5 linked regions of the Homo sapiens genome follow. The protein of the gene in region 1 interacts with the protein of each later gene in a pairwise test. Each region holds a gene or a part of one and is shown in the gene's direction. Other genes may lie near its edges. The genes, in order: CCDC158, SH3GLB2, FCHSD2, TBC1D21 and SGF29.

Region 1 (3,520 bases):
GCTGGAGGATCATATGCCCTTGATTAAAATCCTCCAGTGCTTTGCGTTGCGTTTAGAATAAGCCCCAAAGTCTTCAGTATGTGGCCTTTTCAAGGCCCCATGAGCTTTACCTCCGCCAACCTCACTGACATCTTCTCAGGATAGTGTAGGAAAGGAAGTGATAAGCACAGTGTTCCTTTTGGCATGACACATAGTTGGCCTCCATTAGAAGCCCTCTCATCCCCACTTAGCTACCCTGCAGCCTCATTAGCCTTCTTCACTGGGAGTCAGTGAACACTGAGCTCTTCTCATTTTTGGGCCTTTGTGATGGCATTTCTTTTAAGAAGTTATCCCTGGCCACTGTGAGGCTGACCCCTTTCTGTCATTCAGTTCAATGCCACCTCCTTAGGAAGGCCTTCCCTCACCTACCCTAACTAGAGGAGCTGTGTTAGTCTGTTTTCATGCTGCTAAGACATACCCGAGAGTGGGAAGAAAAAGAGGTTTAATTGGACTTACAGTTCCACATGGCTGGGAAGGCCTCAGAATCATGGTGGGAGGCAAAAGGCACTTCTTACATGGCGGCAGCAAGAGAAAATTACCTCCCCCTGGGTCGCTCCCATGACACATGGGAATTCTGGGATATACAGTTCAAGTTGAGATTTGGGTGGGGACACAGGCAAACCATATCATTCCACCTGTGGCCCCTCCAAATCTCATGTCCTTACATTTCAAAACCAATCATGCCTTACCAGTAGTCCCCCAAAGTCTTAACTCATTTCAGCATTAATGCAAAAGTCTTCAGTCCAAAGTCTCATCTGAGACGAGCCAAGTCCCTTCTGGCTATGAGCCTGTAAAATCAAAAACAAGCTAGTTACTTCCTAGATACAATGAGGGTACAGGTATTGGGTACATATAGCCATTCTAAATAGGAGAAATTGGCCAAAACAAAGGAGTTACAGGGCCCATGCAAATCCAAAATCCAGCAGGGCAGTCAAATTTTAAAGCTACAAAATGATCTCCTTTGACTCCATGTCTCACATCAAGGTCACGCTGATGCGAGAGATGGGTTCCCATGGTCTTGGGCAGCTCCAACCCCTGTGGCTTTGCAGGGTACAGCCTCTCTCCCAGATGCTTTCATGGGCTGGTGTTGAGTGTCTGCAGCTTTTCAGGTGCACAGTGCAAGGTGTTGGTGGATCTACCATTCTGGGGTCTGGAGGATGGTGGCCCTCTTCTTAACAACTCCATTAGGCAGTGCCCAGTAGGGACTCTGTGTGGGGGTTCCAACCCCACATTTCCCTTCAGCACTGAGCTAGCAGAGGTTCTCCATAACGGTCCCATCCCTACAGCAAACTTTTGCCTGGGCATCCAGGCGTTTCCATACATCTGACATCTAGGCAGAGGTTCCCAAACCTCAATTCTTGAGGCCTGTGCACCTTCAGGCTTAACACCACATGGAAGCTGCCAAGGCTTGGAGTTTCCAGTCTCTGAAGCCACAGCCTGAGCTGCACATTGGCCCCTTTCAGCCATGACTGGAGCAGCTGGGACACAGGGCACGAAGTCCCTAGGCTGCACACAGCACAGGGACCCTGGGCTCAGCCCACAAAACCACTTTTTTCTCCTGGGCCTCTGGGCCTGTGTTGGGGTGGGCTGCCATGAAGGTCTCTGACATGGCCTGGAGACATTTTCCCATGGTCTTGGGGATTAACATTAGACTCTGTAGAGTCCAGCCCCACAGGGTCAGTGGGTTTTCTCCCCGTGTGCGGAGATGAGAGAGTGTAGAAATAAAGAGACAAGACAAAGAGATAAAAGACAGCTGGGCCTGGGGGACCACTACAACCAAGACGCGGAGACCGGTAGTGGCCCCAAATGCCAGGCTGTGCTGATATTTATTGGATACAAGAAAAGGGGCAGGGTAAGGAGTGTGAGCCATCTCCAATGATAGGTAAGGTCACATGGGTCCCATGTCCACTGGACAGGGGGCCGTTCCCTGCCTGGCAGCTGAGGCAGAGAGAGAGAGGAGAGAGAGAGAGACAGCTTACACCATTATTTCTGCTTATCAGAGACTTCTAGTACTTTCACTAATTTGCTACTGCTATCTAAAAGGCAGAGCCAGGTGAACAGGATGGAAGATGAAGGCGGACTAGGAGCATGACCACTGAAGGACAGCATCACAGGGAGACGGTTAGGCCTCTGGATAACTGCAGGCGGGCCTGTCAGGCCCTCCACAAGAGGTGGAGGAGTAGAGTCTTCTCTAAACTCCCCCGGGGAAATTGAGACTCCCTTTCCCGGTCTGCTAAGTAGCGGGTATTTTTCCTTGACACTGACGCTACCACTAGACCACAGTCCACTTGAAAATGGGCGTCTTCCCAGACACTGGCATTACCGTTAGACCAAGGAGCCCTTTGGTGGCCCTGTCCGGGCATAACAGAAGGCTTGCACTCATCTTCTGGTCACTTCTCACTATGTCCCCTCAGCTCCTATCTCTGTATGGCCTGGTTTTTCCTAGGTTATGATTGTAGAGTGAGGATTATTATAATATTGGAATAAAGAATAATTGCTACAAGCTAATGATTAATGATATTCATATATAATCATATCTAAGATCTATATCTAGTATAACTATTCTTATTATTTTGTATATTTTATTATACTGGAACAGCTCATGCCCTCGGTCTCTTGCCTCGGCACCTGGATGGCTTGCCGCCCACAGACTCCTTGCTACTTATGCAAATTTCTGCAGCCGGCTTGAATTTCTCCCCAGAAAATGGATTTTCCTTTTCTATCACATAGTCAGGCTGCAAATTTTCCAAACTTTTATGCTCTGCTTCCCTTATAAAACTGAATGGCTTTAACAGTACCCGGGTCACCTCTCTAATGGTTTGCTGCTTAGAAATTTATCCTGCCAGATACCCTAAATCATCTCTCTCAAGATCAAAGTTCCACAGATCTTTAGAGAAGGGGCAAAATGCTACCAGACTCTTTGCTAAAGCATAGCAAGAGTTTACTATGCTTAAAGTTCTTACATAGCAAGAACTTTACTCTAGTTCCCAACAAGTTCCTCATCTCCATCTGACCACCTCAGCCTGGACCTTATTGTCCATATTGTTATTGGCACCTTGGGCAAAGCCATTCAACAATTCTCTAGGAAGTTCACATTTTCCTGTCTTCATCTGAGCCCTCCAAACTGTTCCAACCTCTGCCTGTTACCCAGTTGCAAAGTCGCGTCCACATTTTCTGGTATCTTTTCAGCAATGCCCCACACTACTGGTACCAATTTACTGTATTAGTCTGTTTTCACGCTGCTGTTAAAGACATACTGAGAAGAAGAAAAAGAGGTTTAATTGGACTTACAGTTCCACACGGCTGGGGAGGTTTCAGAATCATGAAGGAGGCAAAAGGCACTTCTTACTTGGCAGCAGCAAGAGAAAATGAAGAAGCAAAAGCGGAAAACCCTTACAACCCCATCGGATCTCATAAAACTTATTCACTATCACAAGAATAGCACGGGAAAGACCGGCCTCCATGATTCAATTACCTCATC
Region 2 (3,520 bases), on another chromosome or scaffold:
CCCGCCTTGGCCTCCCAAAGTGCTGGGATTACAGGCGTGAGCCACTGCGCCCAGCCAATTTAATTTAACTTTTTAAGAAGTTGCCAAACTGTTTTCCAAAGTAGCTGTATGATTTTTTTATTCCTGTCAGTAGTGTGTTGTTTCATTTTCAGATATTTGTGGATTTTCTGGGTTTTCTTCTATTGTTGCTTTTAACTTAATTCCACTGCGATCAGAGAATGTATGAACATGTCGTGCTATGTTAGTATTATTATTATTTTGAGATGGAGTCTCGCTCTGTCGCCCAGGCTGGAGTGCAATGGTGCCATCTGGGCTCACTGCAAGCTCCACTTCCCAGGTTCAAGGGATCCTCCACCTCAGCCTCTCAGCCTTCTGAGTAGCTGAGATTACAGGCACGCACCATCACGCACCTATAATCACACCCAGCTAATTTTTTTTTTTTTTTTTTTTGTTTGAGACGGAATCTCGCTCTGTCGCCCAGGCTGGAGTGCAGTGGCACGATCTCGGCTCACTGCAACCTCCGCCTCTCGTGTTCATGCCATTCTCCTGCCTCAGCCTCCCAAGTAGCTGGGACTACAGGCACCTGCCACCATGCCAGGCTAATTTTTTTTTTTTTCAGTGGAGACGGGATTTCACCGTGTTAGCCAGGATAGTCGATCTCCTGACCTCGTGATCCACCCACCTTGGCCTCCCAGAGTGCTGGGATTACAGGTGTGAGCCATCACACCCGGCGTATTTTTTGTATTTTTAATAGAGATGGGGGTCTCACCATGTTGGCCAGGCTGGTCTCAAACTCCTGATCTCAAGTGATCCGCCTGCCTTAGCCTCCCAAAGTGCTGGGATTACAGGCATGAGCCAGCACACCCAGCCTCATATTTTTATTGTTTTAATCCTTTTAAATTTATTGAGACTTGTTTCATGACCTAGTATATGGTCTATCTGGGGAATGTCCTAGGTTCACTTGAGAAGATGTGATATTATGCTGTTGAGGGTGCAGTGCTGTATAGGTGTCAGCGAGGCCACATCGGTTAATAGTGTTCAAGGCTTGTATGTCCTTGCTGATTTTGTCTTGTCCTATTCATTATCAAGAGTAGACTATTGAGGCTGGGCATGGTGGCTCACACCTGTAATCCCGCCACTTTGGGAGGTCAAAGTGGTTGGATCACCTGAGGTCAGGAGTTCAAGACCAGCCTGGCCAACATGGTGAAATCCTGTCTCTACTAAAAATACAAAAAAATTAGCTGGGCATGCTGGTGCGCGCCTATAGTCCCAGCTACTTGGGAGGCTGAGGCAGGAGAATTGCTGGAACCCGGGAGGCGTAGGTTGCAGCGAGCCAAGAGCGCGCCACTGCACTCCAGCCTGGGAGACAGAGTGAGACCAAAAAAAAAAAAAAAAAAAAAGAGCAGAGTATTCAAGTTTCCAACTATTACTGTTGAATTATCTTATTTCTCTCTTTGTCAGTGTTTGCCTTATGTATTTTGGAACTGTCTTAGGTCTGTATGTTTATATTTGTGCATCTTCCTGATGAATTGACTCTTTCATTATAAAATACTATTCTTTGTCTCTAGTACTATTTTGTGTTAAAGTCTATTTTGTCTGGTAGTAGTATAGCCACGTTAACTCTCTCGTGGTTACTGCATACATGGTGTACTTTTTTCAGCCCATTCATGTCTTTAAATTTAAAGTGTATCTTTGGATTTTTTTTTTTTTCTGTCACCCAGGCGGGAGTGCAGTGGTGCGATCTTGGTTCACTGCGACCTCCACCTCCCGGTTTCAAGCGATTATCCTACCTCAGCCTCCTGAGTAGCTGGGATTACAGGTGCTTGCCACCACGCCTGGCTAATTTTTGTATTTTTAGTAGAGACAGGTTTCACCAAGTTGGTTAGGCTGGTCTTGAACTCCTGACCTCATGATCCGCCTGCCTCAGCCTTCCAAAGTGCTGGGATTACAGGTGTGAGCCACCGCACCCGGCCGTATCTTTTTTTTTTTTTTTTTTTTTTTTTTTTTTTAAAGACAGTCTTGCTCTTGTTGCCCAGGCTGGAGTACAGTGGTGTGACGTTGGCTCACTGCAACCTCTGCCTCCTGGGTTCAAGCAATTCTCCTGCCTCAGTCTCCCAAGTAGCTGGAATTACAGATGCACACCACCACACCCAGCTAATTTTTGTATTTTTAGTAGAGACGAGGTTTTGCCATGTTGTCCAGGTTGGTCTCGAACTCCTGACCTCAAGTGACCCACCCACTTTAGCCTCCCAAAGTGCTAGAATTACAGGCGTGAGCCACTGCGCCCGGCCTTGCCTTCACTTTTGAAGGATTGTTTTGCTATATATAGAATTCCTGGATGAACAATTTTTTCTTTACTTTGAATATATTATCTTACTGCTGTCTGGCTTCTATTGTTTCTAATGAGAAGACAATTCATCTTATTTTAGCTCTCTTGTATGTGATGAATCAAACCATGTTTTTTCTTTTCTTTTCTTTTTTTTAAAGACAGGATCTTGCTGTGTCACCCAGACTGGAGTGCAGTGGTGCAATCATAGCTTACTACTATAGCCTCAAACTCCTGGGTTCAAATGATCCTTCCGCCTGGGCCTCCCAGAGTATTGGGATTACAGGTGTGAGCCAGCGCGCCCAGCCTCTTATTGTTTCTTCACATATTTTTTCTGCCTTATTTTCTCCTCCTCTTCTGGGACTCTTGTTAGTCATATGTTGGTTCACTTGACAGTGCCCCGTAGGTGCTGAGGCGCTGCTCATTTTTCTTATGATTTTCTATTTATTTTTTATAAAGACAAGGTTTTGCCATGTTGCCCGGGCTGGTCTTGAACAGCTGGGTTCAAGCAGTCTGCCCACCTTGGTTTTCCAAAGTGCTGAGATTACAGGTGTGAGCCACAGCATCCAGCCCAGTAGTTTTTCTTGATTAAATGCTTTTCAATTTGTTTTTTGCCTTGGTCAATTTGCAGAGTCCAGAAATGGATGTTTTTGACAATTGTGTCCAGTTTTCTTTCAATTTGTTTTATTTTCAAAGAGATAAGGTCTCCCTATGTTGCCCAGGGTGGTCTGGAACTGCCGAGCTCAAGTGATCCTCCCGTCTCGGCCTCCCAGAGTGCTAGGATTATAGGTGTGAGCCACCGCACCTGGCGTGGTGTCCAGTTTTATTGTTACTTTTTTTGGGAGGGGATTTGTTGAGCTCCTTTCTCTGACATTCTGGAAGTCTAACCCCGATCTTTATAATGGCTGCATTGTGTTCCATATTTTGGCTGTCCCATTGTTTATTTGTTAGTTCCCAGTTGATGGTGTAGTGTAGGTTGCTTCTGCTTTTTCCCAGGCAAAGCATTCTGCACTGAGCACCCCGGCCCTTGCTCTTCAGCAAGCTCTTCCTGAGCCCTCTCCTGTAGATCAGAGTAGCCTGAGCCTGACCTTCTTCCTCACGCTTCAACTCTGTTTTCTCAGGGAAGACACTGATCAAGGTGGCAGAAGCTGAAAAGCAACTGGGAGCCGCGGAGAGGGATTTTATCCACACGGC
Region 3 (3,520 bases), on another chromosome or scaffold:
TAATAGCTCTGATTCTGGAATCGGTCAATTAAGGTTGTAACATTTAACATCTAGGACATCCAGGAAAAATTAACCTCTCTGAGCCTCTGTTTTCTTTTCTATAAAATGATGTGGGACCCACATCATCAGGTTGTTAAAAAAAAAAAAAGTTATATGAAGCACTTTCCATAGTACCTTGCACAATAGAAGTTAGCTATTACTATTTTTATTTAGATTTTGTGGTTTGTTCTTTGTAAATCAGAATCATAGCATTTTAGAGCTAGAAGAAACCCTTGGTGATCATTTGATCTAGCACCCTTATCTTTCATATGAAGCCTGGAGAAAGAGCAAAAGCTGGCTTTTGAGGTTTGGTGGCAAGTTGATGGTGGACCTCTAAAGAGTTCCGTCTGCCTTGGGGCAGGGGGAGGGGTGCAAGATTGTGTTGCTGTTATTATATTGTTTTGTTCTTACTTCTCTTTAATGATTCTTTACTCACATTTAAACTATTAAGTTGTTTCCATTTTTATTTATGCAATGATTTTATCACCATAGTAGGTTGGCATGAATACATTTTCTTCTTTGCTTACCTTAGCTAGCTTCCTTCCCACTCGGAAAGATAAGTCCATCACACCCAAAAAGATAAGTCTGCAGTATTATAGATGATGCTTTTGTGTTCAGCAGTGTAAGACAAAAAGCTTATGGTCTTTAATGGTTTTATGCTGATCTTACTCTTCTGGTAACTTTCTGTGACGTTAAGACATTGCTTCCAGCAGTAGTGGAGCGTGCCTCATGTTTTGAGTGCTGATTAAGTGAAGGCCTTCTGATCCATCTACAAAGCAGTAGTGGTTACAATAAGGATAGCAATATTTTTATCTCTGTTCTCTCTTGTATTGTAGAGCCGACAGTTAGAATCAGAAACTGGGACCACAGAGGAGCACAGTCTAAATAAGGAAGCTCGAAAATGGGCCACACGTGTGGCACGTGAGCATAAAAACATTGTTCACCAACAACGGGTAAGTGTAAGAGAAAGTCCTAGTTACATTCACCTTAAGCCAAATGTCAAACAGTTTAAGGAACTGAGTTTTATTAATGTGAAAAATATCCTATATGTGTTGTTTTGTTTTATTTGAGACAAGAGGCTTGCTCTGTCACCCAGGTTGAAGGGCAGTGGTGTGAACATGGCTTACTGCAGCTTCAACCTCCTGGGCTGAAGCAGTTCTCCCACTTCAGCCTCCCAAGTAGCTGGGACCACAGGCACATGCCACTATGCCTGGCTAAATTTTTTTAGATTTTTTGTAGAGATAGGGTCTTGCCATGTTTCCCAGGCTGGTCTCAAACTCCTTTGCTCAAGCATTATATGTGTTTTTTCTGTACTTTCTCAACACTCAGCAGTGTGCTGTCAGCTATCTACTCATGTTGGAATTTCCTTAAGCCCTCCATCAGCAATACATTAATTTACCTGTTTACCATAAAATTAACAAAGAAAATTGTGATAGTGTATTATGGGCAGGGGAAGAGACATATGTTGAATTAATATAAGTTTTCATCCCTCAAGACATATTTTTTAAAAGACATAATTATAGCCGGGCGCGGTGGCTCACGCCTGTAATCCCAGCACTTTGGGAGGCCGAGGTGGGTGGATCACAAGGTCAGGAGATCGAGACCATCCTGGCTAACATGTGTTACGGTGAAACCCCATCTCTACTAAAAATACAAAAAATTAGCCGAGTGTGGTGGCGGGCACCTGTAGTCCCAGCTACTCGGGAGGTTGAGGCAGGAGAATGGCATGAACCTGGGAGGCGGAGCTTGCAGTGAGCTGAGATCACGCCACTGCACTCCAACCTGGGCGACAGCGAGACTCTGTCTCAATAAAAAGAAAAAAGAAAGACACAATTATAGATTTCATGAAAATATATGTTTGGCTGGGCGCAGTGGCTCACGCCTGTAATCCCAGAACTTTGGGAGGCTGAGGCAAGTGGATTGCTTGAACCAGGAGTTTGAGACCAGCCTGAGCAACATGGCAAAAAACCCGGTGTCTACAAAAAATTCAAAAATTAGTCGGGCATGGGGGCGCACACCTATCTTCCCACCTATTCGGGAGGCTAAGGTTGGGGAGAATTGCTTGAGCCCGGGAGGTGGAGGTTACATTGAGGTAAGATCATGCCTCTGAACTCCAGACTGGGTGACAGAGAAAGACCCTGTCTCCAAAAAAAAAAAAGAAAGAAAGAAAGAAAGAAAATATATCTCGAAGACTAAACTCTAAGCACAAAGAAATTATTTGGAGTATAGTACTTTTTTTCTGTTTCATTTATTGATACCTATATCCGTCTCATTCTTTGCCTTCACATCCTGCTTCTTAAAAGAATTGCCTATGCTTATTATCTATAGAATCTCACCTCCCACTTACTTTTTAGCCCATTACATTTGAGCTTTCCTGTCCTTTCCTTCCCCTGTCTAAGCTTACCAAAATCGCCAATGATGTCTGTGTTGCTAGCTTCCAAGTGGACACTTTGATTTCTCATTTTTCTTAATCTGTCAACAATTTCATCACAATTAACAATTCCATGTCTTAAAATGTTATCTTCTCTAGTCATCCACGATTCAACATTGTCCTGGCTTTCCTTCTGCCTTTCTGGCCATACCTAGATTTTTTCATGGGTTCCTCTTTCTCCATCCCACAATGAAATATTCAGTTTCTCAGATTCCTATACTTGGCTATCTTGTTTTCTTATTCTTTACCCTCATATAGGCATTCTCAGTCACTTCCATGGTTTTACTTTACCACCAAATCATAAATTAACATCTTCAACATTGGGCCTTGCTACTACTGTGTATCCATATAATCTCTTGCCTGTTTTGACATCTTCTTTTCACTATCTCACAGGTGTCTCAAATTCAGTGTTCCACTTATGTAATGTTGCTTAACAAACCACCTCAAACTTAATGCCATAGAACAAGAGGGTTTTTACATTATCTCTCACTAATCTGAGTATTGGATGGTCTCAGCTTAGCAGTTTCCCTTGGGGTCTCTCATGTGGCGGCAATCAGATAGTGGCTGGTCCTGGCTTCCCCACTGAAGGGACTGTCTGTAGTAAGTTTGTTACTAGTAAGTCTATAATTATTTCAAAATGTTCAAAAAATAAATAAATGAAAAAAAATTATGGCTACTAGTCACTAAAGCCCTTTGAATTATGTAAATACTTTAATCACTTAAGGAAGATGAAAAGTAAAAAACAGTCATCATTATTGTCCCATTTTCTTTAATAGGTTCTAAATGATCTGGAGTGTCATGGAGCTGCTGTATCAGAACAAAGCCGAGCAGAGCTAGAACAGAAAATAGATGAAGCTAGAGAAAATATTCGTAAAGCAGAGGTAAGGTGGCAGCTAATTGTGGCATTTTGCCCAGGTCTAATGACACTGTCACAGCTGTGATATACATCTTTAAAACTGAGTTTCTACACACACTGAGATGAAGGTGATTCACCGTCTTCATTCGTGTCCACAGTAGTATTTGTTGAGTACCTGCTCTGTGGAAGGCAGT
Region 4 (3,095 bases), on another chromosome or scaffold:
TGTCATTGGATTTGGGGTCCACCTGGAAAGTCTTACGGATCTCGTCCGGAGATCCTTGACTTAGTCACATCTACAAAGACTCTTTTCCCCCACATGGTTACATTCACAGGTCCTAGGGGTTAGGACATGGATATGTCTTTTTGGAGGCCACCATGCGGCCAGCAATACCAACTAATCATATTCTAATAATGAGGACAAAACACCGCCTCACTCAGCACTTCCAATTCTGAGGCACAGGTGCCAGTATTATGCCCATTCTACAGATGGGGAAACTGAGGCTTAGAGATGGAAAGTCGTGTCCCCAAGACTTGCCCCCAGTGGCAGACACCCCGTTATTAAGATGTAGAGCCAGGATTCAGGTGCAGCGTTTGGAGTACAGAGCCCAAGAAGTTAAACTGTCTCTGTTCTGCAGTCCAGGTGCATGTTGGAGGACAGTTAGGGTGGCACAGGTTGAGATGAGGGACAGCATCACAGGTAGGGTGCATGGCTGGGTGAGGGTGCTGCCCTGGATCTGCCTGGGGCCTGGTAGCTGCAGCTGCTCATTCACCACTTATCAGAAGGGGAAAAGCCACCTTGTTCAGCCTCAGTTCTGTTCTCACAGGAAGAACTACAAGGCCTTATGCCAAATGTATGAGAAGATTCAGCCCCTTCTGGAAAACCTGCACCGGAACTTCACAGAGACTCGCAATAACATTGGTGAGCAAAGTGGGGTGGAGAGGGCTGGGCAGAGGGAGGGCTTGAAGCCAACCCTGCCCCCTTCTCAGCCACTTCCAGGGAGGGATGGCTCCAGGATCCTGGGAGTTGCTTTGACTTGTGCCTGGAGTTTCGCCAGCTGAACCTTGGTTAATCCACCCCACCAGTCTCTCCTGGGTGGCCCTAGATGCCCCATACCATGTTTTCCTGGGTGCATGATGTTCCTGCTGCCTGGTCTTCCTCTCTCCTTTCTTTGGCTTTGAATGAGGTTGGATTTGAACTGGACAGAGAGGAAGGGTGGGGGAGGACATTCCTGGCCGAGGGTACGGCCTCGTTAGAGGGTTGGAGGTGGGAAGAAACACAGACAGCTCAAGGTGTGGTGAGGAACTGAGCCTGGCAGGGGCTGATGTACCTTTCACAGCTCCCTCTCCCTCCAGGATGTCCTAGGGCCTGCCCATTGGGGTAGGGGAAGAAATTCACCCATAGACCTGCTGGATGTGATCTGGTGCCACCTACTTGCCCCTTGCTTCCAACCTAGCACGTGACATTCAGAAAATCTATGACAAAGATCCCCTGGGCAACGTCCTCATCGACAAGAAGAGGCTAGAGAAGATCCTGCTCCTGAGTTACGTCTGCAACACGCAGGCAGGTGAGCCTCAGCCTCCCCTTGTCAATGCCCTCCCAGGACCTGGCCCAACCTAAGCCAAGGGTCCAGGCTCTCCCACCCAGCCCCTCCTCCCCAACCCCCTCTTCGCCACAGAGTACCAGCAGGGCTTCCATGAGATGATGATGCTCTTCCAGCTGATGGTGGAGCACGACCACGAGACCTTCTGGCTTTTCCAGTTCTTCCTGCAGAAAACGGTGAGGGCAAGGCCTGAGCTCAGGGACGCCCCTCCCCAACCCCCCACTACTCCCCAAACAACTCTTTGAGGATGGGCAGGCATTGGCCACCCCAGCCATTCCTTCCAGGCTTCTGGGTCTCAGAGGAGCCTGGGAGGGTGACGCTAAACCCAGTGGTTCAAAGTAGTGGTGGTGGGGAGGCACTGAAGTGGAGAAGGGGGATGGAGCAAAGCTCTGGGTCCACCTCTCAACAAACCTTGAAAGAGCATGGCTGGCCAGGCCCAGGGAAGGTGCCCTCTCCTGGCATTTTCTTCCCCAAGCACGGTTCTCCTCCCTCCTCGCTGCTTCTTCCTCAATGGCTCCCTGTGGCCTCCAGAATAAAATCCAATAACCTTAGCCAGTCATTCAGGGCTGTTCCCTTCACATAACCTGAATTCCAGGCACACCAGGGGACTCAATAGTCCCCAGGGGCTCCCTCACTGTCCAAGTTGAGGGGTTTTGAAGGTGCAGCTCCCTGGAACACCTCCCTGGAAAGCCTTTCCTCATGATCTGCGAGAGGCTGCCCAGAACCCTCCCTCATCCCTCCCTCCACCCCACCATCCCTGCACATGTGCTTGCTGCCCTTCCCTTGTCCCAGTTGGCTCTGCCCCAACACTATTGTGTGAGGGAAGAACTGGGCAACTGGGCTCACTAGACTGTGAGCCACAGTTGAGAATCTCTACTACACACACATACACACACACACACACACACACACACTACACAGCCACCCAGAGGCGTACAACATATACAGACAAACTTGCATACACAGATCACAGTCACATAGATATGTATGCACACACTCACACACACACACTCAGACTCATAGAGACATGGGCCCAGCGCACAGACAGACACACAGAGCCTCCAGAAGTGAAGCTGGGGGAAGCAGAGTTGACTCTTCCGGTGCCTTGAAGCCAAGGGGGACTCAGTCTGTCTCCCACCATCGTGTGCAGGAACACAGCTGTGTCATCAACATTGGCGTGGCCAAGAACCTAGACATGCTCAGCACCCTGATCACCTTCCTGGACCCCGTGTTTGCTGAGCACCTAAGTGAGTGGTTCCCACCTCCTGCCACCTCACGCACCCCCCAGGCATGGGAAGGGGGCTGGGACCCAACTGTCAGTCCCTAATCATGGGGGGGCTGGAGAGCAGCAGAATCATTTGATTGCTTCTCCAGGCCCTGGGAAGAGGGTTATCTGGATGGGGTTGGAGCCTGGACAGTTGAAAGTTGACTCTAAACCATCTCCCAGGGCAGCTGGAAAAGGGGCGGCAGGCTTTTTGTATTTCCCAAGTGTTTTGCAGGCTCTGTAGTTTGGCCTCATCTGCATGTGTTTGCTGCATCATATGTGTTTTCCCCTGACCACAGCCTCACCTTCTCTCCCCACAGAAGGGAAGGGTGCAGGGGCTGTGCAGTCCCTCTTCCCCTGGTTCTGCTTCTGCTTCCAGCGTGCCTTCAAGTCCTTCGATGATGTCTGGAGGCTCTGGGAGGTGAGGTGTCCAGCTAGGGATCATCAGGCTGG
Region 5 (3,520 bases), on another chromosome or scaffold:
CCTTGTTGAAAATTAGTCGACCATTTCTGGTTTCTCAGTTCTATTCCATTGAACTAGATGTCTTTGCTTACAACATCTTGATTACTGTAGCTTTCTTTTTTTAAAGTTAAAAAATTTATAAAGTAGAAGTGGGGCTCAGGCTCGTCTGGTGGCCTAGGCTCGTCTGGACCCCTGGCTGCAAGTGATCCTCCCGCCTCAGCCTCCCAAAGTGCTGGGATTACAGGCGTGAGCCTCTGGGGCCTGGCCACAATTGAGTTTTGTTTATTGATCTCGTATCCTGCAACTTTGCTATGAGTTCTAACCTTGTCTTAGTCCTAATAGTTGTTTAATGGATTCCTTAGGGTTTTCTATATACAAGGTCATGTCATCTGCAAATAGAAATAGTTGTACTTCTTCCTTTCCAATGTGGATGCCTTTTATTTCATCTTATTGCCTCATTGCCCTGGCGAGAGCCTCCAGAACAATGTTGACTAGAAATGACAAGGGCCCATGCTCATCTTGTTCCTGACTTAGGGGAAAGCTTTTAATCTTTCGCCTTTAAGTCTGATGTTCGTTGTGGGTTTTTCATAGATGCCCTTCATCAGGTTGAGGAGGTTACCCTCTATTCCTAGTTTGTATGTTATTATACTTTTAAATAGCAGCAGCAGAGCATGTAAGAAGATATGAATAAATACATGGCGAGAGGTTCGCAGTTGATTAAGTGGGGGGAAGAGTTTACTCCATTCATCGTGAATCTGATCTCTGTGAGTAGGAGGATGTGTTAGTTGAACAACTTTAAAAAAAAAAAAAAAAAAGAGGGCGAGGTGGGTGGATCACGAGGTCAGGAGTTTGAGACCAGCCTGGCCAAGATGGTGAAACCCCGTCTCTACTAAAAATACAAAAAATTAGCCAGGCAAGGTGGCGGGTGCCTGTAATCCCAGCTACTCTGGAGGCTGAGGCAGGTGAATCGCTTGAACCCAGGATGCCGAGGTTGCAGTGAGCAGAGATCGCACCGCTGCACTCTAGCCTGGGCGACAGAGCAAGACTCTATCTCAAAAAATAAATAAATAAAAAATAAAAATAGAGACAGGGTCTTGCTGTATTGTCCAGGCTGATCTCGAGCTCCTGGACTCAAACCATCCTCCTACCTTCGCCTCCCAAAGTGCTGGGATTACAGGTGTTAGTCACTGCCCCCAGCTTGAACAAACTTTGTAAGATGCAGGCTATTGTGCAAAATTTTAGCACTGTAAAAAATATCCCCTTATTTTATCAAATATACCTTTATCTTGAGGCATATGTCTATTTTCACCTACTTGTAACTTACACTCTTGATTACTTTTGGTTGTCTTTTTACTCTTGTTCTAATTATCTTTTTTTTTTTTTTTTTTTGAGACGGAGTCTCACTCTGTCGCCAGGCTGGAGTGCAGTGGCGTGATCTCGGCGCACTGCAACCTCCATCTCCCGGGTTCAAGCAATTCTCCTGCCTCAGCTTCCTGAGTAGCTGGGACTACAGGTGCCCACCACCATGCCCAGCTAATTTTTGTATTTTTAGTAGAGACAAGGTTTCACCATGTTGGCCAGGATGGTCTTGATCTCTTGACCTCATGATCTGCCCTCCTCGGCCTCCCAAAGTGCTGGGATTACAGGCATGAGCCACCACGCCCGGCCCTAATTATCTTTTATTGTACAGAAGCATTTTATTTTCATCAGAGTACATTCATCTTGATTGAGATATTTTACAGTAGTTTCTCTCCCCATGCTGGCTGGGCGTGGTGGCTCACGCCTGTAATCCCAGCACTGTGGGAGACTGAAGCAAGCAGATCACCTGAGGTCAGGAGTTTGAGACCAGCCTGGCCAACATGGTGAAACCCCATCTCTACTAAAAATACAAAAATTAGCTGGACATGGTGGCACACACCTGTAATCTCAGCTACTCAGGAGGCTGAGGCAGGAGAATTGCTTGAACCTGGGAGGCAGAGATTGCAGTGAGCCAAGATCACACCACTGCACTCCAGCCTAGGTGACAGGGCAAGACTCCCGTCTCAAAAAAAAAAAAATTATCTTCCCACTATAGTAAGAAAGTAACAGCGTTTTATGACTTGGAAAGTGTCTTCATATAAAATCTTATTTGAATCTCCCAAAATATAGCAGAGATGATCCCCATTTTACAGATTAAAATATGGATACCAGAAATGTTTGAATCATTTGTCAGGATATTGGCAGCAGAGCAGGGGCTAAGGGCATGCTATCTTTTTAAGGCACTTCATATTAATTTTTGTATTTATATACAAAAATTATACACTCCTTGACTCCTTGACTTCGTCGAACATATGACATTCAAACATATCAATAGGGTGGAGGAGAATCCAAGGATAGCTTGCCACTGTATTCATTTCTTATGGCTGCCATAACAAGTTACTGCAAGCTGGGTGGCTTAAGACAAGAGAAATTTATTCCATCACAGTTCTAGGGGCCATAATTCCAAAATCAAGATGTCAGCTTGGTTCCAAAGACAAGGGATTGTTGCTTCTTGGAGGCTTAGACGGGGCCGTTACTCCGCGCATCTCTCCCGGCTGGATGGGTGGCTGCCGGCAGTCCTTGGCATCCCCTGGCTTGCAGCTGTCCAAGTCCAGTCGCTGCTTCTGTCTGCACCTGGCTGTGTGTCTGGATTAAGGGCACACCCTATTCCACTATGACTTCATCTTAGTGACATCTTAAATACTTCTCCAAAGACCCTAATTCCAAACAAGGTGACATTACAGGTACCATGGTTAGGACTACAATGTATCTTTTTATTATTACTATCTTTTAAAGGGATAGGGTGTCACACTGTCATGTAGGCTGGAGTGCAATGGCACGATCGTAGCTCATGCAGCCTCAACCCCCTAGGGCCTAGCGATCCACTCACCTTAGCTTCTCGAATAGCTGGGACTACAGATGTGTGCCACTATGCCGGGCTAAGTTTTTAATTTTTTTGTAAAGACGGGGTCTCCGTGTTGCCCAGGCTGGTCTTGAACTCCTGGCCTCAAGCAATCCTCCCGCCTTGGCCTCCCAAAGTGCTGGGATTACAGCATGAGCCTCCAGGCCTAATGTATCTTTTGAGGGGGCACAGTTCAGCCCACAGCAGCCACTAACAGAGTTCTCTTCTGTCCTCGCTCCCCCACCAGGTGCCCCTGTAGACAATGGCCCTCGTGTCTGCCGATTCCCGCATTGCAGAACTTCTCACAGAGCTCCATCAGCTGATCAAACAAACCCAGGTAAAAAGTCACCACCCTCCATTCCCAGATGGGAACATGGGCTTTGATGCTGAGCCGTGAAGTGGGGGTGGCATTTGTGTTCAGAGAGATTGGACTCGCAGGAACCAAAATGACGTAATAAAAGTGAAAGGAGGGGAATTTGGTGTATGGCTACCATTCCTGTTGGATTTTCTACCATGTACAGGATTTCATGATTCATTTTGTTTGACAGCTATCCTGAGATAGAATTCACATGCCATACAACGCACCCATTTAAAGTGTATAATCCAGTGGTTTTTCGCAGC

What was found.
Region 2: the proteins of CCDC158 (region 1) and SH3GLB2 interact in a two-hybrid assay, tested with the Homo sapiens proteins (one large-scale study listed by BioGRID and IntAct).
Region 3: the proteins of CCDC158 (region 1) and FCHSD2 interact in a two-hybrid assay, tested with the Homo sapiens proteins (one large-scale study listed by BioGRID and IntAct).
Region 4: the proteins of CCDC158 (region 1) and TBC1D21 interact in a two-hybrid assay, tested with the Homo sapiens proteins (one large-scale study listed by BioGRID).
Region 5: the proteins of CCDC158 (region 1) and SGF29 interact in a two-hybrid assay, tested with the Homo sapiens proteins (one large-scale study listed by BioGRID and IntAct).

Annotation. Positions count from the first base shown.
Region 1 is NC_000004.12:76,414,624-76,418,143, reverse strand, and holds part of CCDC158 (coiled-coil domain-containing protein 158), read left to right. Parts: intron 1-3,520.
Region 2 is NC_000009.12:129,014,832-129,018,351, reverse strand, and holds part of SH3GLB2 (endophilin-B2), read left to right. Parts: intron 1-2,492; exon of another isoform or gene 2,493-2,612; intron 2,613-3,447; coding exon 3,448-3,520.
Region 3 is NC_000011.10:72,887,301-72,890,820, reverse strand, and holds part of FCHSD2 (F-BAR and double SH3 domains protein 2), read left to right. Parts: intron 1-875; coding exon 876-992; intron 993-3,246; coding exon 3,247-3,351; intron 3,352-3,520. UniProt on the Homo sapiens protein: Adapter protein that plays a role in endocytosis via clathrin-coated pits. Contributes to the internalization of cell surface receptors, such as integrin ITGB1 and transferrin receptor.
Region 4 is NC_000015.10:73,883,550-73,886,644, forward strand, and holds part of TBC1D21 (TBC1 domain family member 21), read left to right. Parts: intron 1-601; coding exon 602-696; intron 697-1,231; coding exon 1,232-1,342; intron 1,343-1,453; coding exon 1,454-1,554; intron 1,555-2,528; coding exon 2,529-2,625; intron 2,626-2,962; coding exon 2,963-3,063; intron 3,064-3,095. UniProt on the Homo sapiens protein: Acts as a GTPase-activating protein for Rab family protein(s). Essential for the establishment of male fertility, and is required for both the production of normal sperm number and sperm function.
Region 5 is NC_000016.10:28,577,909-28,581,428, forward strand, and holds part of SGF29 (SAGA-associated factor 29), read left to right. Parts: intron 1-3,146; 5' UTR 3,147-3,161; coding exon 3,162-3,236; intron 3,237-3,520. UniProt on the Homo sapiens protein: Chromatin reader component of some histone acetyltransferase (HAT) SAGA-type complexes like the TFTC-HAT, ATAC or STAGA complexes.